Linked DNA regions of Homo sapiens: regions 1 and 3 are each linked to region 2. The links come from fine-mapping of genetic effects on gene expression. A gene starts in region 2. Each other region holds a variant in brackets. All regions are shown on one strand. Distances are from middle to middle.

What was found. PIP is the estimated chance that this variant, and not a neighbour inherited with it, causes the effect.
Region 1: its variant is fine-mapped to the expression of RFX2 in whole blood (INTERVAL, PIP 0.95).
Region 3: its variant is fine-mapped to the expression of RFX2 in whole blood (TOPMed, PIP above 0.99).

The regions. Positions count from the first base shown.
Region 1 is chr19:6,430,474-6,438,653 of GRCh38, forward strand. SLC25A41 (solute carrier family 25 member 41) reads right to left here and starts at 3,290. Exons shown (of 7, transcript NM_173637.4): 1 at 3,014-3,290; 2 at 1,576-1,731. The coding sequence starts at 3,220. It also overlaps a transcript of SLC25A23 not described here. The variant A/T (reference allele first, on the strand shown) is at 4,348.
Region 2 is chr19:6,106,559-6,114,738 of GRCh38, forward strand. It overlaps RFX2 (regulatory factor X2), which reads right to left and starts at 3,942. Exons shown (of 18, transcript NM_000635.4): 1 at 3,835-3,942. RefSeq lists an enhancer at 2,456-2,956 and a silencer at 3,804-4,263.
Region 3 is chr19:6,052,591-6,060,770 of GRCh38, forward strand. All of the region lies in intron 1 of RFX2 (regulatory factor X2), which reads right to left. Among named protein-coding and RNA genes, the nearest start is that of RFX2-AS1, 5.9 kb to the right of the region's middle. The variant G/A (reference allele first, on the strand shown) is at 4,697.

The sequences.
Region 1 (8,180 bases), 320 kb after region 2:
TCCGTTCCTCCCTTCCTTCTTTTTTTTTTTTTTTGACGGAGTCTCACTCTGTCGCCCAGGCTGGAGTGCGGTCGGGGGATCTCGGCTCACTGCAACCTCCGCCTCCCAGGTTCAGGCGATTCTCCTGCCTCAGCCTCCCGAGTAGCTGGGATTACAGGCTAGTGTCACCACGCCTGGCTTATTTTTGTATTTTTAGTAGAGCTGGGGGTTTGCCATGTTGGCCAGGCTGGTCTGGAACTCCTGACCTCAGGTGATCTGCCCACCTTGGCCCCCCAAATTGCTGGGATTACAGGCATCAGCCACCGCGCCTGGCCTTCTTTTCCTTTTCTTTCTTGTTTTTTTGTTTGTTTATGTTTTCGAGACAGGATCTTGTTCTGTTGCCCAGGCCGGAATGCAGTGGTGCAATCACAGCTCACTGCAGCCCCAAACTCCTGGGCTCAAGTGATCCTCCCACCTCAGCCTTCCAAGTAGCTGGGACTACAGGTGCGTGCTACCATGGCAGGCTAATTTTGTAAAATTTTTTGTATAGATGGGGTCTTACTATGTTGCCCAGGCTGGTCTCAAACTCTTGGGCTCAAGCGATCTTCCCACTTTGGCCTCCCAAAGTGCTGGGATTACAGGTGTGAGTCACCATGCCCGACTCCTTTTTAAATTTTTAATTAATTAATTAATTAATTATTATTTTGTAGAGATGTGGTCTGACTATATTGCCCAGCTGGTCTCAAACTCCTAAGCTCAAGTAATCCTCCCTCCTTGGCCTCCCAAAGTGAGCCACTGCACCCGTTTATTTTTTCAGCCAGGGATCTCGCTCTGTCACCCAGGCTGGAGTTTGTGGCATGATCATGGCTCACTGCAGCCTCCAACTCCTGGGCTCAAGCAATCCTCCTGCCTCAGCCTCCTGAGCAGCTGAGACTATGGGTGTGAGATATCCTGCTTGAGGTAGCTCCAGTTCTATGTTGCCTTTTTTTTTTTTCTTTCTTTTTTGAGACAGAGTCTCACTCTGTTGCCCAGGCTGGAGTGCAGTGATGCAATCTCGGCTCACTGCAACCTCCATCTCCTGGGTTCAAGCAATTCTCCTGCCTCAGCCTCCTATGTAGCTGGGACTACAGGCACGCACCACCATGCCCGACTAATTTTTTTGTATTTTTAGTAGAGACAGGGTTTCGCCATGTTGGCCAGGCTGGTCTCAAACTCCTGACCCCAGATGATCTACCTCCCCTGGGCCTCCCAAAGTGCTGGCATTAGAGGCATGAGCCACTGCACCTGGCCCCTACCTTGTCTTTAAACTCGTCCAAAGACCCCATCCCCAATTCCCTGACCTCCAACCCCCACCTTGGCCCAGCGTTGGTCCCTGTCCCTGGCAAGTTCTCTCAACTCCTCAAACTCGACTCCAAGCCATGTCCACACCAGCTCTATCACCATCCACAACCTCAATCTCAGCTAGTCCAGGAGAGCCCAACTCCAGCCAGCACTCCTATCCTGAACTCCATCCACGTCAACTCCATCTGTCCTCACCCCACGTTCTCCCCAGTGGCTCCAGCGCTGGGTCCCGTCCTCCCCCCAACCCACACAAACCTGCATGTACACCTTGGCTCTGTCCAGAGGTGCCGTGCCCGTGCGAGACACCGCCCCGGCCATAGCTCCTGAGAGTAGAAACTTCCACAAGGCCTCCTTGTTATCCACTTCCAGGACTTCCACGGGGACCATCAGCTGCTCTCCTGTGTCCAGTACCTGCAGGGCAGACCCGGCCCTCCCTCATCCTCAGCCAGGTTGGGGCACCTTCCCCAGACACACATCTAGGGCACCCACCTGGTGAAAGACCCACCCTGTTCCCCCAAGTCTGCATTTTTTTTTTTCGAGACGGAGTCTTGCTCTGCTGCCCAGGTTAGAGTGCAGTGGCACAATCTCAGCTCGTTGCAACCTCCACCTCCCAGGTTCAAGCAGTTCCTGCCGCAGCCTCCTGAGTAGCTGGGATTATAGGCATGCACCACAACACCTAATTTTTTTTTTTTTTTTTTTTTTTTTTTTTAGTAGAGATGGGTTTCACTATGTTGGCCAGGCTGGTCTCTAACTCCTGACCTCAAGTGATTCAACCCTCCCCCCTGGTTTTTTTTTGTTTTGTTTTTGTTTTTTTTTAGACAGAGTCTCACTCTATCGCCCAAGCTGGAGTACAGTGGTGCGATCTTGGCTCACTGCAACCGCTGTCCCCCTGGTTCAAGCGATTCTCGTGTCTCAGCTTCCCAAGTAGGGACAATGGTGTGATCTCGGCTCACTGCAACCTCCGCCTCCTGGGTTCAAGTGATTCTCTTGCCTCAGCCTCCCCAGTAGCTGGGATTACAGTGCCAACGTGCCGAGCAAATTTTTGTATTATTTTAATAGAGGCAGGGTTTCACCATGTTGGCCAGGCTGGTCTTGAACTCCTGACCTCAGGTGATCCACCTGCCTCAGCCTCCCAAAGTGCTGGGATTACAGGTGTGAGCCACCACACCCAGCCAATGTAATATAGACTCTCTAAGTTACTCATGGAGGATCCAAGGAGGAATACAAATGTAATTAGGACTATATCTAGACTCTTAATTTATTCTTATTTTTTGAGACAGAATCTCGCTGTGTTGCTCTGGCTTGAGTGCAGTGATGAGATCTGGGCTCACTGCAACCTCTACCTCCTGAGTTCAAGCGATTCTCCTGCCTCAGCCTCCTGAGTAGCTGGTACTACAGGCGCCAACCACCATGCCTGGCTAAGTTTTGTAATTTTAGTAGAGATAGGGTTTCGGCATGTTGGCCAGGTTGGTCTTGAACTCCTGTCCTCAAGTGACCCATCCACCTCAACCTCCCAAAGTGCTGGGATTACATGTGTGGAGCCATCGCGCCCTGCCTCCCTGCCCCACCCTGCTTCAAGGTGGAATTCTAGGTCCGCTAGCAGGGGAGTGGGCCTGTAGAGGGCGTGGGTAGCCTGGCCTCTCCCTGTAGTCCTGACCAGAGGTGCCGGGACACTGGTGTTTCCTAAACTCACCTGCTGTGACGGGAGATGTTCAAGGTTGTTGTCATGCATGTGGCCAAACGCGTACCCATACACGTGTGTACAGCCAGGGTTCCAGGATGGGGGTGGAGGCGGAGGTTGGGGGGGAGGCGGGGCTTTGATGAGTAAGGTCTTGACCCTCCTAAACAGTGTCTGGATCCTAGAGCAAGTGTTCTGAGGTTCCCCAGGCTGAGCGCCCATGGAGGAAGTTAGGACACCTGGCTTCAAATCCCTAAGCAGTTGTTTGCTGCTCCAGCTACCATGCGGGAGTGTCTAGTGGGAGGATTGTGTGGGGGACCAAGAGGAGGATGAAGTCACAAACGCCCCTGTGACCTTCCTAGGTGTGGTGGGCAGCGTGATGGCCCCCTTCCCCCAAGTATCCACCTCCTGATCCCCCAAACCAATAAATATGTTATCGTTATAAATTGAATTGTGTCCTGTCAAAATTATTATTATTATCGTTTTTTTTGAGACGGAGTCTCGCTCAGTCTCCCAGGCTGGAGTGCAGTGGCGCTATCTTGGCTCACTGCAAGCTCCGCCTCTGGGGTTCACACCATTCTCCTGCCTCAGCCTCCCGAGTAGCTGGGACTACAGGCATCCGCCACCACGCCCAGCTAATTTTTTTATTTTTTAGTAGAGACGGGGTTTCACCGTGTTAGCCAGGATGGTCTCGATCTCCTGACCTCATGATCTGCCCACCTCAGCCTCCCAAAGTGCTGGGATTACAGGCGTGAGCCACTGCTTCCGGCCGCAAAATTCTTATGTTGAAGCCCTATTTCCCAGTGGGTTGGAATTTGGAGACAGGGCCTTTGGGAGGTCCTCAGGGTTAGATGAACTCATGAGGATGGCCCCTGCAAGATGGAATTAGTTCCCTATAAGGAAAAGACAAACCAGAGCTCTTTCTCTCTCTCTGTCTGCCATGGGAGGACGCAGCAAGAAGGCATGGCAGGAAGAAATCCCTCAGCAGGAACTGAGCTAGCCAGCCACCTTAACCTTGGATTTCCCAGCCTCCAGAAATAAATGTCTGCAGTTTAAGACCCCGCTCTTTAGTGTTTCCTTATAGCAGCCTGGGCTGACTTACATTTGTTACATGGCAAAGGGGAATTAAGTTTGCAGATACAAATAAGGTTGCTAGGCCTGATGTGGTGGCTGACGCCTGTAATCCCAGCACTTTGGGAGGCCGAGGTTGGCAGATCATCTGAGGTCAGGAGTTCGAGACCAGCCTGACTAACATAGTGAAACCCAGTCTCTCCTAAAAATACAAAAATTAGCCAGGTTTGGTGGTGTGCCCCTGTAATCTCAGCTACTCTGGAGGCTGAGACAGGAGA[A/T]TTGCTTGAACCCAGGAGACAGAGGTTGCAGTGGGCCGAGATTGAGCCATTGCACTGCAGCCTGGGCAACAGAGCGAGACTCCATCTCAAACAAACAACAACAACAACAAAACTTTGCTAGGCTGGGCGCCGTGGCTCATTCCTATAATAGCAGCACTTTGGGAGGTCAAGGCAGGTGGATCACTTGAGCCCAGGAGTTCAAGACCACCCTGGGCAACATGGCCAGACCCCTGTCTCTATAAAAAATACAAAAATTAGCTGGGCATGGTGGTCCATGCCTGTGGTCCCAGCTACACAGGAGGCTGAGGTGGGAGGGTTGCTTGAGCTTGGGAGGTGGAGGCTGCAGTGAGCTGAGATCTTGCCACTGAACTCCAGCCTGGGTGACAGAGCGAGACCCTGTCTCAAAAAAAAAAAAAAGAAAAAAAAAAAAAGAATTAAGGTTGCTAAACAGCTGATGGGAAATGGTCTCACTCTGTCACCCAGGCTGGAGTATAGTGGCACACTTAAGGTCAATCCCCTTGACCTCTCTGTTCAGGTGGTTCTCCCACTTCAGCCACCCGAGTGGCTAGGAACACAGGTGCGGACACCACGCCCGGCTAAGTTTTAAAAATTATTTTTGGCTGGGCGTGGTGGCTCACACCTGTAATTCTAGCACTTTGGGAGGCCAAGGCAGGTGGATCACCTGAGGTCAGGAGTTTGAGACCAGCCTGGCCAACATGATAAAACCCCGTGTCTACTAAAAATAACGAAAATTAGCTGGGTGTGGTGGTGCATACCTGTAATCCCAGCTACTCAGGAGGCTGAGGCGGGAGGATCACTTGAGTCCAGGAGTTCAAGACCAGCCTGGGCAGCAAAGCAAGAAATTTTTCTACAAAAATTTTTTAAAATTAGCCAGGTGTGGTCATGTGCACCTGTAGTCCCAGCTACTTGGGAGGCTGAAGGGGGAGGCTCCCTTGAGCACAGGAATTAGAGGCTGCAGTGAGCTATGATTGTGCCACTGCACTCCAGCCTGGGTGACAGAGTAAGACCCAGTCTCTAAAAAACAAAAAAAGTAGTCAGGCATGGTGGTGTGTGCCTGTGGTCCCAGCTACTCCGGAGGCTGAGATGGGAGCATCACCTGAGCCTGGGAGTTTGAAGCTGCAGTGAGCCATGATTGCACCCCTGCATTCCAGCCTGGGGAGGGGACAGAGTGAAACCCTGTTTCAAAAACCAAAACCGAAACCAAACAAACAAACAAACAAAAAACCTGACAAAATCATATACATGTAGGTATATATGTATTAGCCAGCTGTTGCCATGTGACGAATTACCCCCCCGCCAAAGGTTGGCAGCTTAACACAACAAACATTTATCATCTCACCCATATTCTGAGCATTAGGAACTCAGGAGCCGCTGAGCCGGCTGTTCCCGTGATCAGTGTTTGAAGTATAAGAGTCTAAGATTCAGGATTCAGGTACTGGGATCCAGTTGTTTCGGTGGAGGGATCCACAAAGCTTGGACTATCCAGGGAATTCAACTGATAGAATTGCAGTGAGATGTTGGCCAGGACAGCAAGATCCTCTTCCAAGCTCAGTTACATGGCTATTGGCTGAGTTCCTTACCACATGGTCCTCTCCATAAGGCTGCTCATGGCATGACCACCGGCTTCCTCCAGAGCAAATGTTATGAGAAAGGGGGAGAGAGAGAGAGAGAGCATGTAACCAATAACCAGGATGGCAGCGACAGTGTCTTTTTTTTTTTTTCTTTGAGACATAGTTTTGCTCTTGTTGCCCAGGCTGGAGTGCAGTGGCACAATCTCGACTCACTGCAACCTCTGCCACCCAGGTTCAAGCAATTCTCCTGCCTCAGCCTCCTGAGTAGCTGGGATTATAGGTGCCCGCCACCACGTCCGGCTAATTTTTGTACTTCTAGTAGAGACGGGGTTGCCATGTTGGCCAGGCTGGTCTCGAACTCCTGACCTCAGGTGATTCACCCGCCTCGGCCTCCCAAAATGCTAGGATTATAGACGTGAGCCACTGCACCCAATCTTTTATTTTTTTATTTTTTGAGATGGAGTCTTGCTCTGTTACCCAGGCTGGAGTGCAATGGACCAATCTTGGCTCACTGCAACCTCCACCTCCTGGGTTCAAGTGATTGTCCTGCCTCAGCCTTCCGAGTAGCTGGGATCACAGGCATGTGACACCATGCCCGGCTAATTTTTGTATTTTTAGTAGAGACGGGGTTTCACCATGTTGGCCAGGCTGGTCTCAAACTCCTGGGCTCAAGTGACCTTGAACTCCTGAGCTCAAGTCATCCTCCCATCTCAGCCTCCTGAGCAGCTGGAACTACAGGTATATGCCATCATGCCCAGCTAATTGAAAAATTTTTTGTAGAAATGGGGTCTCACTGTGTTGCCCAGGCTGGTCTCAAACTCCTGGCCTCAAGCGATCCTCCCACCCCGACCTCCCAAAGTGCTGGGTTTACAGATATGAGCTACCCCACCCACCCTGAATTTTCTATTTTTTCCACAATAAATTTGAATTACTCATTGTGGGTTGAACTTTGTCCCCCAAAAAGATGTGTTCAAGCCCTAACCCCAGTAACCTGCAAATGTGACCTTATTTGGAAATACGGTCTTTGTAGATATAATCAAATTAAAATGAGGTTACACTGGATTGGGGGGGGTTGCCCTAATCCGATGACTGCTGTCCTTACAAGACATGGAATCGGCCAGGCGCAGTGGCTCACGCCTGTAATCCCAACACTTTGGGAGGCTGAGGCAGGCGGATCACGAGGTCAGGAGTTCAAGACCATCCTGGCTAACATGGTGAAACCCCGTCTCTACTAAAAATACAAAAAATTAGCTGGGCATGGTGGCGGGTGCCTGTAGTCCCAGCTACTTGGGAGGCTGAGGCAGGAGAATGGCATGAACCCAGGAGGCGGAGCTTGCAGTGAGCCAAGATCGCGCCAGTGCACTCCAGCCTAGGCGACAGAGCAAGACTCCATCTCAGAAAAAAAAAAAGGCCGGGCGCGGTGGCTCATGCCTATAATCCCAGCACTTTGGGAGGCATCCTGGCTAACATGGTGAAACCCCATCTCTACTAAAAATACAAAAAAAAAAAAAAATTAGCTGGCTGTGGTGGCGGGTGCCTGTAGTCCCAGCTACTTGGGAGGCTGAGGCAAGAGAATGGCATGAACCCGGGAGGCGGAGCTTGCAGTGAGCCGAGATCGTGCCACTGCACTCCAAAAAAAAAAAAAAAAACAAACTTGGAATTTGCACTTTGGGAGGCCGAGGCGGGTGGATCACTTGAGGTCAGGAGTTCAAGACCAGCATAGTGAAACCCCGTCTCTACTAAAAATGCAAAAATTAGCCAGTTGTGGTGGTGTGCACCTGTAATCCCAGCTATTCTGGAGGCTGAGGCAGGAGGATCACTTGAACCCGGGAAGCGGAGGTTGCAGTGAGCTGAGATCACGTCATTGCACTCCAGCCTGGGAAACAGAGCGAAACTGCATCTGAAAAAAAGGATGGAAATTTGGGCAGAGAGACACAGACACACATAAGGGAGCATACAGTATGAAGATAGGCAGGCAGTGGAGTGATGAGTCTATCATAAACCAAGGAACACCAAGGACCATGTGGCTCACACCTGTAATCCCAGCACGTTGGGAGGCTGAAGGCTGGCGAATTCCTTGACCCCACGAGTTCGAGATGAGCCTGGGCAACATGATGAAATCCTATTTCCACAAAAAAGAAGTAATAATAATTAGGCCAGGCACGGTGGCTCACACCTGTAATCCCAGCACTTTGGGAGGCTGAGGTAGGCAAATCACCTGAGGTCAGGAGTTCGAGACCA
Region 2 (8,180 bases):
TATAGTTCAGTTCAGAAATACGGCTGTGTTTAGTGGGAATGCCCTGGACCCATAGTTTCAGAGACAGGCCCACAGACTCGCATTCTCCTCCCCTGCAGTTTAGTGAGTGTCCTGACAAGCAAGATGAGAACTTCCCTTGGTTTTTCAAAAGTTTCCTATTTTACAAGTAAGTGGGTACCTATGGGGGTATACTGTTTAAATGTTTGTAAATATTTAAATATATTTGTTTTATATTTAACATATATTTATATTTAAATTTTATTATATTTAAATATATAAGTATATATTATATATACATGTTTTAATATTTCAATATATATTTTAAAAATATTTAAATATTTAATAAATAGATGTCAACTTTAGAAACAAATATATATTATAAGATGTGGTTCCTTCTGGCCCCAGCATTTTATGAGCAAAACAATCACTAGCTACTATAAAAATCCACAGGTGCCGGCCGGGCGCGGTGGCTCACGCCTATAATCCCAGCACTTTGGGAGGCCAAGGTGGGCGGATCACATGGTCAGGAGATCGAGACCATCCTGGCTAACACAGTGAAACCCCGTCTCTACTAAAAAATACGAAAAATTAGCCGGGCGTGGTGGCAGGCGCCTGTAGTCCCAGCTATTCGGGAGGCTGAGGCAGGAGAATGGTGTAAACCTCGGGGGTGGAGCTTGCAGTGAGCCGAGATGGTGCCACTGCACTCCAGCCTGGGAGACAGAGCAAGACTCTGTCTCAAACAAACAAACAAACAAACAAAAATCCACAGGTGCAGGGGCCGGGTTTGGTGGCTTACGCCTGTAATCCCAGCACTTTGGGAGGCCAAGGCGGTTGGATCATTTGAGGTCAAGAGTTTGAGACTAGCCTGGCCAACATAGTGAAACCCCATCCCTACTAAAAATACAAAAATTAGCCGGGTGTGGGGGTGCATGCCTGTAATCCCAGCTATTCAGGAGGCTGAGACAGGTGAATCCCTTGAGCCTGGGAGGTGCATGTTAAGGTGAGCTGAGATCTTGCCACTGCACTCCAGTCTGGGTGACAGAGTGAGACCCTGTCTCAAAAAAAAAAAAAAAAAAAAAAAAAAAATCCACAGGTGCATTTAAAATTTTGACTCGATTATAATATTAAAGTTAAGCCAATTTAATATTTTTATTAATTATAATGCTAATGTAAAACTAAACAATTAGATCTAAGGAATAAGACCCAGATAAACAATTCCCCAGCACCTGCATTTCTGGTGGACAGAACCATCCTTAGCAGTACTTCAATGATAAACAATGTTAAAAGATGAGTATTTACATTTAAATATACATCACATACACATTATATTATATTGTTGTATTTAAATATACATCACACATACATTAAGGTAATGCGTGCCCTTCACGCAGAAAGCAAAGATCAAGTGATTTCAAAGAACTTGTCCTGTTATTGAGGTAATAACTGTCTCTCTCTTCTCAGATTCAGTGGTTTATAAGAAAGAACTTAAAAAACTAAAATATTTCAGTATTGCTTTTCCTGCAGGAGCAAACTATTTCAGAACTCATTCCCAACCCAAGTCCGTTGAACTGTCACAGAATCACAGAACAGTGATCTTTCCCATCATACATTATAAGTTGCCTTCCGTACCACGCCTGTTGATGAAGAAGCCCTAGTAATTCAAGAACTTAAATTCTTTTCCTAGGGAGGTTACCATAAACTCTTACTTCTCTGGTCAGAGTAGGTGAGTTGTCGTTTCTAAGGTTATTTTAGAGTCAGTTCAAGTCTTTAAACTAGAGCAGGAGAAAGCACAGATGCCCCCCTCCTCCTTATCCAGAAGGACGGGAGGTAAGGATCTTTCCATAAGCAAACAATGTTTCAGGGCACGATGTAAAAAGATAAAATACATGTCAACAATATGTACAGGCAAAAATTTTTTTAAAAAGTCTTTGTTGTTTTGTGTCATTATTATTATTACTGTTACTTTGTTGGGGAACTCTTAGTTGAAACAGAGAATGAAGCTTGTACAAGGTTTGATACAGAGATGAAGCTGACTGAGAGGGAAAAGAACTCATCGAAGCCTGCGCTGGTCATTTATGATACAAAGCAGGAAAATAATTGCAGGGAGGCACAATGCTAACAACACCCCAAAGTAGGAATGAAGCCTGGGGGGGCGGGGGTAAGGCAGCCAGCCCTGGGTCCCGAGCTCCATCTTGCCCTCTCCCCTCCCCATTCTTGCCGCACAACCAGGAGGTTAAAATAGGAAGATGAACCGCGCCGGCAGCCGCCAGAATGGCCCGGGCGCTTGGGGCCCTCGGGGGCCCTTGAAATAGCCACTAGGATCGGGAAATCCAACTTTCCCAGCGGTGCAGCGAGGAAAACCAAAAGGAACGGAGCCGGAGGCTGGTGGCGAGGGAGCGCGGAGGCTTCTCGGAGGGAGGAAAAAGAAAGAAATGAGCATTTGGGGTGTGAGTGAGTGTGTGTGTGTGAGTGTGTGTGTGCGCCCGCGAGCGCGCTGGTGGGCGGTGGGGGCAGGGGGTGGAGTTTAAATCCACAAACACACACACGCACTCGCACTACCTCGGAGAAAATGCCTGGAGCAGTTTAGGTTCTTTAACAAAATAAATAAATTGAAAAAAAAAAAAAGTTTCACTCGCGTTGGTGAAACTTTTCTCCCTTCCAGATCAGTCCTAAGAGGAGAGCTGCGGACGTGCGGAGGGGCATCTTGGGGGCACGTGGAAAGACTGGCGGACGCACGAACCCCTATACTCAGGAATATGGGGTCACAGGGAGAAGGGGAGGGGGTGTCCGAGGCGACCTGAACGCGAGGATTTGGGGCAAAAAGGTGAGAAACAGTTCCCGGGGAAGCTCGCTCGGGGAGTTTGGGATGAAAAGGTGAGAAGGGCAAGAGGGGTTCTCCCCAGGGCAGACGCACCAGCTTTTAGTTAAGGAATGAGAAAAAGGTTCCAGGGGTGCCCCCAAATTCAGTATGTCTGGGAGTCCATTAAAAAGGGGGTCCCCGGGACAAGTCAGATCTAGGAATTTGGGGTAAAAATGAGAAGGGAGTCTTCGAGGTCCCCCCGATGCAAGAAGTTTGCGACTAAGAGTGACAGAAGGGCTCTGGGGTCACCCCAATTTCGGAGGTTTGGGGAGTAAAGTAAGAAGAGGGCCCCAGGTGGCCCCAATTCAGGGAGTTTGAGGGTATGAGTAAAAGAGGGGTCCCCGGGTGTCCCCATCTCAGAGATCTGGGGAGTAAAAGTGAGGAGAGGGTCCCCAAGCGCCCCCAATTCAGAGAATTCGAGGGTTTGAGTAAAAGAAGGGTCCCTGGGTGCCCCCAACTCAGAGATCTGGGGAGTAAACGTGAGAAGAGGGTCCCCTGGCGCCCCCAATTCAGAAAATTCGAGGGTATGAGTAAAAGAGGGGTCCTTGGGTGCCCCCAACTCAGAGATCTAGGGGGTTAAGGTGAGAAGAGGGTCCCCAAGCGCCCCCAATTCAGGGAGTTTGAGGAGTTTGAGAGACGTTCCCGGGGCGCCCCCAACTCAGCGAGTTTGAAGGTAAGCGTGAGAAAGGGGTCCCCGGACGCCCCAACCTCAGGAAGTTTTGTAAAAAGTGAGGCGACGGCACCGCACCTCCCCCGCGTTCAGTCAATAAGGAAAGTGGGGACGTCGCCAGGGTCCCCCCAAACTCCGCCGCGCGCGCGGACGGGGTGGCGGAGGCGGGTCCCGCGGGCGCACCACCCGGACGTTTGGGGTGAGCGGCGGGGACGTGCTGCCCGCCCCCCGGCCCCCGAACGGGGTCCCCGCCGCCCCCCACACTCCCCGGCCGGGCTGGGCCCGGGGCGGTCGCATCGGTCACCTGGAGTTCGGGCCGGGAGTTCGGGCAGCGGCTCCCGCGGCGGCGGCAGCGGCTGCTGCGTGTTGGTCCCCGTTGGTAAGTAACAGTCTCCACGGCTACAGTCTCTATGGCGGCGGCGGTGGCGGCGGCGGCCGCTCCTCCTCCGGCTCCCGCCGCCAGCCAGCCTCGCGCAGCCCGCCCGCCCGACGGGGCGGGGCGTTGTTACCGGCAACGGTTACCAGGCTCCGCGCCCCACCTTCCTAACGGCCCGCCCACGCTCGCCTCCAACGGGCCCCCAAGAGGGCGGGGCGCGAGACCCTACGGCGTTCCATTGGCTGTCTGCAGAGTCTGTCGGAAGGAGGAGGCGTTCCCCCTTGAAAAAGAGTGCGAGACTCGGCCAATGGCCGCGAAGAGGGGCGGGTCTTGGCGGGAGGCGCGCGCGGCTCAGAGGGTTGGCGAACCGGTCGCGCGCGCGGCGCCGTGGGTTGGTGGCGCGTTTTGGGAAAGTCCAGTTTTAGGGGACCCAAGGGACTCCGTTTACCCCACAGGAGGAGTGTGGGACATGTGGGAACAGTCTGATCAGGGGTCAGCAAACTCTCGCTCGCCGCCTGTTTTTCACGGACCCCCAGCTGAAAATTTAAATATATATATATTTTTTACATGGTTAAAAGAAACTATCGGCCGGGCGCGGTGGCTCACGCCTGTAATCCCAGCACTTTGGGAGGCTAAGGCGGGTGGATCACGGAGTCAGGAGATCGAGACCATCCTGACTAACACGGTGAAACCCCGTCTCTACTAAAAATACAAAAAATTAGCCGGGCGTGGTGGCAGGCGCCTGTAGTCCCAGCTACTTGGGAGGCTGAGGCAGGAGAATGGTGCGAACCTGGGAGGCGGAGCTTGCAGTGAGCCGAGATCGCACCACTGCACTCCAGCCTGGGCGACAGAGCGAGACTCCGTCTCAAAAAAAAAAAAAAGAAAGAAAGAAAAAAAAAGAAACTATCAAAAGGAGCTTTTGTGGGGTGTGAACCTGATAGGAGACTCTCTTTTATTGTATTGGGCCCAGTATTTTGAACTAGTTTAAAGATTGGCAAACTGCGGCCTGCGGGTCAAATTCTGCCTGCTTGGGTTTGTAAATAAAGCTTTATTGGAACATAGCCACGCCCATTTCCTTGAACAGCTTGGAAGGCTGCTTTGACACTACAGGGGCGGAGTGGAGTAGTTGCGCAAAGACGGCATGTCCCACGCGAAGCCTAAGATATTTACTATACGGTCCTTTACAGAAAATGTTTGCCAAACTCACCAGCCCTCCTCTCAAGCTGGTAGATTCAGCTACGAGTAGGACAGAAACAGACAGATCCTCATAGAACTTTTATTCTAGTGAGGGAACATTGACAGCAAACAGAATAAAGAGGTAAACATATAGTTATTCGAGACAAGGGGCTGGAAGAATAGGAGAAAACAACTTGTACTGAGAAAAGGCAGGAGATTAGGCTTCAGCCCCACTCATTCATTCAACAAGAAATCATATTAGTGAGCACTGATTAAATTGCTATGTGCCTGAAAGTGATCTAAGCATTTTTTAAATATGCAAACTCATTAAATCTTACAATCGCATCTTTAGAAAGATGCTAGGCATTATCCCCGTTTTTATTTGTTTTGTTTTTTCTTTTTTTTTTTTTGAGACAGAGTCTCTCTCTGTCACCCAGACTGGAGTGCAGTGGTGCGATCTGGCTCGCTCACTGCAACCTCTGTCTCCCGGGTTCAAGTGATTCTCCTGCCTCAGCCTCTCAAGTAGCTGGGACTACAGGCGCCCGCCACCACGCTCAGCTAATTTTTGTATTTTTAGTAGAGACGGGGTTTCACCATGTTGGCCAGGCTGGCCTGGAACTCCTGACCTCAAGTGATCCGCCCGCCTTGGACTCTCAAAGTGCTAGGATTACAGGCATGAGCCACCATGCCCGGCCTTTCCCCATTTTTCAGATCAGGAAGCTGAGGCCCAGAAAGAATGAGTGAATTTGCCCAGTGTCAAACAGCTTGTGAGGGATCGGAACCCTAGTAGTCTAGTGCCAAAGTCCATGCTCTTGATCACTAGATGGGTGGTTTTCAAACATTTTTGACCACAGCATACAGCAGGAAATACATTTTACCTAGGGGCTCAGTCCACACAAACATATCTATAACTAAAACAAATGATACTGTAACTAAAGTACCGTGAAATGATACTTTAACGCACTCTGATATTTCCTGTTCTGTTTCATTTTAATTAAAATGTTGACGGTGATTTGCTAAATTGATTTCATCATCTTCTAATTTTTTTTTTTTTCTTGAGACAGAGTCTCTGTCGCCCAGGCTGGAGTGCAGTGGCATGATCTCGGCTCACTGCAACCTCCGCCTCCCGAGTTCAAGTGATTCTCCTGTTTCAGTCTCCCGAGTAGCTGGCGTTACAGGCACGCGCCACCACGCCTGGCTAATTTTTGTATTTTTAGTAGAGACGGGGTTTCACCGTGTTGGCCAGGCTGGTCTCAAACTCCTGATCTCAAGTGATCCACCCGCCTCAGCCTCCCAAAGTCCTGGGATTACAGGCAGGAGCCACTGCGCCTGGCCATGTGACAGATTCTTAAGCTCAAGTGGTCTACAGTAATCAGTCCCTTTCATTCAATTATTAATTTAGTCAAAAATATTTATTGAGGTCCAAGTGCAGTGACTCAGCAGGAGGATCGTCTGAGGCCAGGGGTTCAAGACCAGCCTGGGCAACATAGTGAGACCTTATCTCTATAAAAATAAAATAAATTAGCCAGGCGCAGTGGTGCACACCTATAGTCCCAGCTGCTCAGGAGGCTGAGGTGGGAGGATCGCTTGAGCCCAGGAGTTCTAGGCTGTGGTGAGCTATGACTGTGCCTCTGAACTCCAGCTTGGTAGACAGAGCAAGAACCTGTCTCTAATATATATATATATACATTTATATATATACACACACATATATACACACACATATATGTGTGTATATATATAGTATATGATGATAGATAGATAGGTAGATAGATAGATAGATAGATAGATAGATAGATAGCGCCTACTATTTGCTAGGTGCTAGGGACACAGGTGTAAATAAAATAGATAAAATTCCCATGGCCATAGGAAAAGTGATACAGTAGTGGCTTGGTGGGAGAAGTGGGTGGGTGGGGCTTACCTTAGATAGAGCAGCCAGAGATGATCTCCCTGGGATATCCAACAATCCTGCTTGGCCCAAGACTAAGGGGTTTCCCAGGATATGGGAATTTCAGTGCTAAAACCGGGAAATCCCCAAAGCGGGAAGAGTTGGTCACCCTGGGTCTCTCTAAGGAGCTGACATTTGAGGCAACGTTGGAGTAACGAGGAACAAAGGAAAATAGTTTGGAATTCGAAATCCCTGGGGTGAAAGCTGATGTGGAAGAAACAGAAAGCAGGTCCTTGGGCACAGCTGGAGCCAATGAAAGGGGAAGAGCAGTGAGTGGGTGGGGTGAGTGAGTCAGGGGATGATATGATGGCCATCATTTTATTGGAGGCCGTAGGGAAGAAGTCACGATCAGACTGGGAAACCAATGGAGGGTGTCTTTTGTTGTTGTTGTTGTTGTTTGTTTTTGAGCTGGAGTCTTGCTGTATCGCCCAGGCCCACGCTGGAGTGCAGTGGTGCGATCTCAAGTTGTAGCCTCGGGGAGTAAGGTGACCGCCTGTCCTGGAACTGCTGGTCAACCCGTTTAGCTAAGCTAGACCTCTTCCCGCTCCCAGCCCTGGCCAGAGGCGGAAACTGTGGCCCCAGTTATCTCAAAAGACAAGCACAGAGTAGCAAAAGACAAGCCAACAGGTGGCAAATTCTTAGAGTCCTGCTTTTGTGCGGCACATTTTTGTAAATTAAGGTGACATTTACATACCATAAAATGAGCCATTTTAAAAGGAAACAGTTCAGTGGCATTTAGTACATTCACTATGTTGTACAACCACCACCTATATCTAATTCCAAAGCATTTTCTTTTTTAATTTGTTTTTTTTTTTATGATGGAGTCGCCTGTCACCCAGGCTGGAGTGCAGTGGCACGATCTCACCTCACTACAACCTTCGCCTCCTGGATTCAAGCGATTCTCTTGCCTCAGCCTCCCGAGTAGCTGGGATTACAGGTGCACGCCACCATGCCCAGCTAATTTTTGTATTTTTAGTAGACATGGGGTTTCACCATGTTGGTCAGGCTGGTCTCAAACTCTTGACTTCAAGTGATCCGGCCCCCTTGGCCTCCCAAAGTGCTGGGATTACAGGCGTAAGCCACCTTGCCCGGCCCCCATGGAGGGTTTTAAGCAGGGGTGTGTGCGGGGACAGGTGGGGTGGGGAGTGGG
Region 3 (8,180 bases), 54 kb before region 2:
TTCTTTTCAAATGCACATGGAATATTCACTGTGATGGGTCATGTTCTGGGCCATAAAATAAGCCTCAATACATTTCAAAATACCATAATTATACAGAGCATGTATGCACTTTGACCACAGTGGAGTAAATTAGAAATCAGTAAGAAGGTTAGAAAAATGCCAAATATTTAGAAAACTTAAAATACACCTTCAAAATAATCCATGGGTCAAATAATAAACCCCAAAGAAAAATAGAAAATATTTTGAACTGAATTATAATGTAAACACTTTGTATCAAAATTTGTGGGCACTGGTACAAATATTGTGGGTGAAAAAAAGAAGTAAAATTATTAAGAAAAAAAAGTGGGCACACCTAAAGCAGTGCTTAGAAAGAGATGTTTAGCTTTATATGCTTATGTTAGAAAGATTTAAGAACGTTTTCAACCTTAAAAAGCTATATAGAAAGACAAACAAACTAAACTTAATAGAAAGAAGGAAAAACAATAAAGAACAAAATTAATGAAATTAGAAACTCCACAAACAATGGAGAAAATGAACAAAAGCAATATTTCTTCAAAACTGAAATTTTTTCAGAAGAAGAAAGGAGCTATCAAGCCATGAAAAGACATGGAAGAAATTTAAACACATACTATGAAGTGAAAGAAGCCAGTCTGAAAAGGCTACATACTGTATGATTCTAATTAAACAACATTTTGGAAAAGGCAAAACTATGAAGACAATGAAAAGATCAGTGGTTGCCAGGTATCAGAGAGAGGGATGAGTAGGCAAAGCACAGAGGATTTTTAGGACACTGGAACTGTTCTGTATGGCACTATAATGGTGGACACATGTCATTATACATTTGTCCAAACCATAGAATGTACAACACCAACAGTGAACTCTCGAGGAAACTATGGACTTTGGGTGAAAATGCTGTGTTAATGCAGATTTCATCAACTGTAACAAATGTACAACTCTGGTGGGTGATGGTGATAATGAGGGAAGCTGTGCATGTGTGGAGGTATGGGGTATATGGGAAATCTCTGTATTTTCCTGTCAATTTTGCTGTGAACCTAAAACTGCTCTTTAAAAAAGCAAGTCTTGGCCAGGCATGGTGGCTCATGCCTGTAATCCCAGCACTTTGGGAGGCCGAGGGCGGGTGGATCACCTGAGGTCAGGAGTTTGAGACCAGCCTGGCCAACATGGTGAAACTCTGTCTCTACTAAAAACACAAAAATGAGCCATGTGTAATGGCGGGCACCTGTAATTCCAGCTACTCAGGAGGCTGAGGTGGGAGAATTGCTTGAACCAAGGAGGCAGAGGTTGCAGTGAGCTGAGATTGCACTACTGCACTCCAGCCTGGGTGACAGAGCAAGACTCTATCTCAAAAAAAAAAAAAAAAAAAAAGCAAGTATTTAAAAAAAGTTAATTAACAACTTCTCCTGGAAAGACTGATAAGAAAAGAAAACCCAAATTGCCAATATCAGGAATGAAATGAAATATATCACTAGAGATTCTACAGAAATCAAAATGATAATAGAGAACTATTACAAACAACTTTAGCCCATAAATTCAATAACATATAAAATGAACACTTTTTTAAAAACACAACATAACAAAACTGACACAGATGAAATAAAAAAATGTGAATGTAATACATATAACAAAAAAATTGAATATGTTATTGGAAACTTCCCTACACAGAAAACTTCAGGCACATATAGTTTTACTGGTGAATGCTATCAAATACTGAAAAAGGAATTATTACACAAATGCCATCAGAAAATAAAAAAAGAATACTTCACAACTCATTTTATGAGGTCAGTAAACCCTGACACCAAAACTTAACAAATATATTACAAGGAAAGTGTTTAGACTAATATCTCTTATGCACATATATGCAAAAATAATTTAAAATATTAATAAATCAAATTCAACAATATATAAATAATATAACCCACACTTAGATTATCAATTGATTTTTTTTTCTAATGGAGCCTCAGCTCTTTTCTTCCTCAACTGGATTTTCACAAAGGTGTCAAGGCAATTCAACAGAGAAAGAAGTCTTTTAAACAAATGGTGATGGATCAACAGAATATCCATATTGGGGAAAATAAATGAACCTTGACCCCTACCTCACACCATACATAAAAATGATTTCAAGTTAGAACATGAACTTACTTACACACAAAAGCTAAAACTATAAGACTTCTCAGAGAGAACATAGGAGGTTAGACAAAGGTTTCTTAGAATGCACAAATCAGCATAAAAGAAAAACTTGAGAAATTAGATTTCACCAAAATTTAAAACCTCTGCTCATTAAAAGATTTTGCTAAGAATATGAATAGGTAAGCCACAGCCTGGGAGAAATATTTGCAAAACATGTATCTCATAAAGGGCTTTGATCCTAATATATCTACATCTATATCTATATATATAAACTCCTACAATTCAATATAAGATGACAAATAACTTAAAAAAATGGTACTTCACAAAGCAAGATATACAGATGCCCAAAAGTACATGAATAGTGGTCAGCCTCATTAGTCACTAGGGAAATGCAAATTCAAACTATATCAAGATATCACTAAATACTCACTAGAATGGCTAAACCTGACAAGTCTGACAACATCCAATGTTGTAAGTACATGGAGCAACTAAAACTCTCACACACCCCCATGTGTAGATATGAATGATATGACCACACTGGAAAGAGGTTTGGCAGTTTTCTAGAAAGTTAAACCTGCCCTTTAACCCAGAATTCCTCTTGTAGTTTTTATCCAAGAGACATGAAGACATATCTCTTCAAAAAAATAATAACAACTTGTATAAGCATGTTCATAGCAGCTTTTTGTTTGTTGGTTTTTGTTTTTTGTTTTTGAGACAGGGTCTCCCTCAGGATAAAGTACAGTGGCACAATCACAGCTCACTGCATCCTCAACCTCCCAGGCTCAAGCGATTCTCCCACTTCAGCCTCCTAAGTAGCTGGGACTACAGGCACGCAGCACCATACCCGGCTAATTTTTGTATTTTGGGTAGAGACAGGGTTTCACCATGTTGCCCAGGCTGGTCTCAAACTCCTGGGCTCAAATGATCTGCCCACCTCAGCCTTATTCATAGCAGTTTGATTCAGTCACCAAAAAGTAAAAATAACCCAAATGTTCCTCATCAGGAGAGTGGACGAGAAATTGCAGATTATGATGATTTAAAGATTCATATTGAAAACCCTAAAACAACCACTAAAAATGGAAAAGAAGAGCATAGCTAAAAAGCTAATAGAGGAATACTACTGGAATACTCTTCATGAATAGAAAGGAATTAATTACTGAAATTCACAATGCATGGATGAATCTCAAAATCATTACGCTGAGTGAAAGAAGTTGAGTCCAAAAGAGTAGATGAGTAGAGTGGATTAAAACTAAAGTTAAAAAAAAATCATAATAGTGGGTGGGGGGGCAGGTGGCGGTGGGCGAGAGTGACTGGAAAGGGACAGGAGGGGACACTCCAGTGAGATGGACGCATTCTGTATGATAATACAGTGTGCGGTTACATGGAGTCGTGATTTGTCAAAATTAGCCAGCTAAGGTTTGTGCACTTACTGTATGTGAATTTTAACAATGACAACGAAGCCTGTAAAAATACAAGGGTGGAGAGGAGGACGGAGAGTGGGTACAGGTATCCAGGTGTTATAAGAATGGCAGGACCCTGACACCCTGTAGAGGGTGGTGGCTTCATAAGTTTCATTGCATTGTGTATTTACTTTGTGGATGTTTGAAATTTCCATGATAAGGAGTTAAACAAACACACACACAAGACACCAGCGATGAGCAGGAGTGGCTCATGATCCTGGCGGTGCTTCCAGGTAAGCGCAGTAGCTCACATGGTCCTCCCAGAAGGGGTGATGCTGGATCCTGAGTAACTCCTCCACCTGGCAGAGGAGAGCGCAGCAGAGAGTGGGCAGAGGGCAGGGCCCCGAGGGCGTGGGTGTACTCAAGGTAAAGTCCACAGGGCACAGGGACGCACACTGTGGAGCACCTTTGCAGCACCCAGTTTGGGAACCCCTCAATCCAGTGCAAGACAGTAGATGTGAGTGAGTGGAGGCCATGCTTCTTCTCTGAACCTGAATCTGCTGTGGGAACTTGGACCCATTCAGTGACTGCCCTGCCGTCCTTGCTTTCTCGCGTTCCTTTGTCCTCTCTTCTGTTTTTCTTCCTGTGGCGAGGACCTGGGCAGTCTTACTTTGACTGCCTTCCCCTGTGTCCTCTTAGACTGGGTTACAGGAGCCTCGGAACAGCCAATATAAAGGGGAGGGGCCGCAACACGACCTGTCACCCAGCCTGGCCCTGCCTGGCCAACGGGCTTGGCTGGCCCAAAGCTCCCTCCCTCGTGCCTCAGAAATATGCCCGGAGTGCTGTTTATAAGCTGAGCACGTTTCATTTACCATCTGGTCCAAGATCAGGGCGGGCATGAAATAAAGGGGAAAAGCACAGAACCAGCGGCGCAATTTCCCCTCCTTGGCCGGCACCAGCCTTTGGAATCCACGAAACGCTCATTTGACCTTGAACGAACATTCAAGTGAACCAGATGCGCACTTGACCTTTTGGAGCCACTGCTGAGTCAAACGCGCCAGTGGGAACATCTCCCGTGGCTTCCTGACTTCATGTGAGGGGGCACAGGAGAGACGCAGCTAGAAGCAGCCCTGGACTACGGCCGTGAT[G/A]AATGAATCTGCCTGGGCACAAAGGGAAGAGGCTTCTGTTTACAGAAAAATACTCCCATCACCTAGTAACCAGCAATGTCAGGAAAGGAAATGCAGAAAACGCTGAGAGCAATTTCTGGGCCCGTTCCTGGCTGAGCCGCTGACTCACTGCGACCTTAAGCAATCTCTCTTCTATTCCTGTTCCTCCATATGCCAAATGGAGCTGTCACCTGCCTCACATAGTTCAGATCAGTATTTAGACAATGTTTTGTCATCTTTGGTGATAATTGGGGCAGAGTTAGCTGAGTGGTTTTAGTTACCTTCATTCTGATTGGCTGATGAGCCTCGGTGTTTGGGAGGCACGTGGCCTCCTCCGGCCATCAGCTCCTCCTCTCCTGGTACTCGCTGGCCTCCAGATGGTACCAGAGTTCATCTGCCCTAAGAAAGCAATTAATTTCCTCCCTCTGAACAAGAAGGAACAAGCCCGGAGTGCTCTCAGGAGTACCAGTTGCTTCAAAGCCCAGATTCTGTCCTGGTAGCTTGTCTTAACACTCCCAGTGTCATTAGGCTGCCCAGAAAAGTCTTGTCCGTTTCCTTCTCCCGGCTCCCCTCTGAGGGCCAGGTCCTCGGAGTAAGTGATGCGTGTTTTAAGATTCTGTCCTCACTGTTCAGGCTTGTGTGGCCTGGCCCCACGCACAGGGAGGACACCTCCAAGCCATCTCCTTGCCGAAAAGTGGATTCTCGAACCCTCCTTGATGGTGGAACCATGTCCTTTCTGGCACCAGGATTACTCCCTGTGGACCCAGTTGGTTCTCAGTGCCAAGAGTTATTACTCTGCCCTGATAATCACCAAAGATGACAGTGTGTGTCCCCACTTGGCACTGTGGACATTGGGGACGGATCCATCTCTGGGCTGGGGCCGTCCTGAGCACTGCAGGGTGCTGAGCAGCATCCCTGGCCTCCGCTCACTCCATGCCAAGAGCACCCCCAGTTGTGACAACCACAGATGTTCCCAGACATTGCCCAGTGTCCCCTGGGGCGCAGAAGGACCTCTGTTCAAAATGGATTTGTGATGTCTAAGAAGGGGTCTGGACAAACAGCCCCCGAGTAAAACAGGCCTGTAGACAGGGTGAGAACAGGAAGATGAAAAAGGAGAGTAGGCAGGATGCAAAATCATGACAATTCAGCCAGGCAAGGAGTGTGAAATAAATGAACAGGACCCTCTGAAGGCTACCCACACATTCCAGAGCAGCAGGCTTCAATGCACACCAAGGGCAACCATCGTTCCCTCCGTGCCTAAGCCACGGGGGTGCCCGTCATTCCTCACTTTTGGGTTTTTTTTTTTTCTCCTCTTGTAGCAATGGGCTTTCAAGGACTGGAGCTGGCTCCGAGCTTCTCTGAAATCAAGTATCTTCAGAATTCAAATTCCTTTTTCTTTTCGTAAGAATTGGGCTTCTGTTCCTGTTTTCTTCTCAGGAGCCAAACTTTCCCTCCTTTCTCTAGAAAAGGATCAGAACCAAGCCCTTGACAACTGGCCTGAGAAAGGGCTGTTTGCAGACTGGAAGGGGGATGGGGGAGTGCAGACACCCAGTAGGCCCTTAAGTCGCAGGTTCTAATCTTCAGAGGCTGAGAGCAGGCTGCGCTGACAAGGCCTCCCCTAAGCCAGGGACCCCCGTCTTAACAGTGGAAACACCCGTTCCTTCCCCTTTAGAAACCTGACTTTTTTTTTTTTCAGACAGAGTCTTGCTCTGTCACCCAGACTAGAGTGCAGTGATGCGATCATAGTTCACTACAGCCTCGACCTCCCTGGCTCAAGTGACCCTCCCGCCTTAGCCAACCGAGTAGCTGGAACTATAGGTGAGCACCAGCACGCCCGGCTAATTTTTAATTTTTTGTAGAGACAGGGGTCTTGCTATGTTGCCCAGAATGATCTCGAACTCCTGGACTGAAGCAATCCTCCCACCTCGGCCTCCCAAAGTGCTGGGATTACAGGTGTGAGCCATCACGCCTGGCCTTGATTTGACTATTAATATAAAAATTGTCCAAACTAAAGTATGGTTACCTCATCTCTGATGTGGTCTGATTTTAACTGCCATCAATAATATACCAAATTCAGGGTGAATTTTGAATTAAAAAACCACCAAGTCTTCATGACACTTTCACCCAGCAAATACTCTTTTGGCAGGCAACCTGATTCCACTGCTTCTAGCAATAACTTCAACACCACAAAACTTGGTTTCTAGGAAATGGAAATTCTCCTTAGGTTATGGGGTGCCCTAAAGTCCAACACATTGGAGTGAAAGGTAACTGGATACCAAGCTAGAGGCCGAGCAGCAGCTGGTGCTCTGTCCCCCAGGAGTGGATATCTGTCCCCCAGGAGTGGACATGAGAGTGTCACACACACACAGACGCATGTATACACTCCCCACGTATGCATATACACAAATATACATGGACATACACATATACACAAACACACACACACAAACACATGTACATACATGTATACACAAAAGTACACATGCAGACACACATACATGCACACACATACACCACCTGACGCAGGATAATATGAGAAGAATGGCCAAAACCACTCAGAAGACACGTCATTTTCTTACTCCATACATTTTTCTATTAAATTGAATGTTGACTCCTCCCACTAGACAAAAACAACGATTCTTGTAGTAAAAAGTGATGGGGGGGAGCCTGTGTTCACACATCCACACACATGCCTTTGGGAGAAAGCCTCAAAGTACATTTTTTTCTCTGTACTTTTCTCCTTGCAAGATTCCATTCTAAAATTGCAACTCTTTTGTCCCCCTTTTCTGACACCGCCTCTGCACCTCCTGGCTCTCAGCCATGCCCCTGCCATGCTGTCTCTTCCACTTCCTTCTACCCCACAACTCCTTCCCTGTGCTGACCTCCCCCCACTATCTCACATCCAGACTGTCTACATCCAGTTCCTTGCATCTTCAACTCCCATTTTCCCATTATCTATGATGGCTTTTGTGCTCCAACAGCAGAGGCGAGGAGCTGAGACAGACCCCAGCAGAAGCCTAAAATATGTACTCTCTGGTCCTTTACAGGAAAAGGCTGCTGGCCCCCTTCCTGAAGGTTCTAGAGCCTTCCGTCTCCCTCCAAGGACCCACCGATCAAGCCTGCAATCTGGCTTCTGCACAGGCTCCATTCTTTCAGCTTATAGACAAGCTCACATCACACCCATTTGAGGAGAACATCCACTGCCACTGAAACCCTGCTCTTTATCCTTTATCTTCTCTTGAGATATGGATTCTTTTTTATTTGTAAGTCCAGACTCTCAGGAGGGAGCCTCTGTCGTCTTCTCTCTGCATTCTCATGTCTGCCCACTGTTCTTCTTGAGGTCCTCACGGGGCAGTTTTCGGGCCTCCTCTGAACTTGTACTCTCTGCAGTGTTTCGTGTCGCTCCTCGAAGCTCTGTCCTCCCTCGTGTCTGGGTGCTGTTGTCATCTGGTTTCATTTTTCCCCC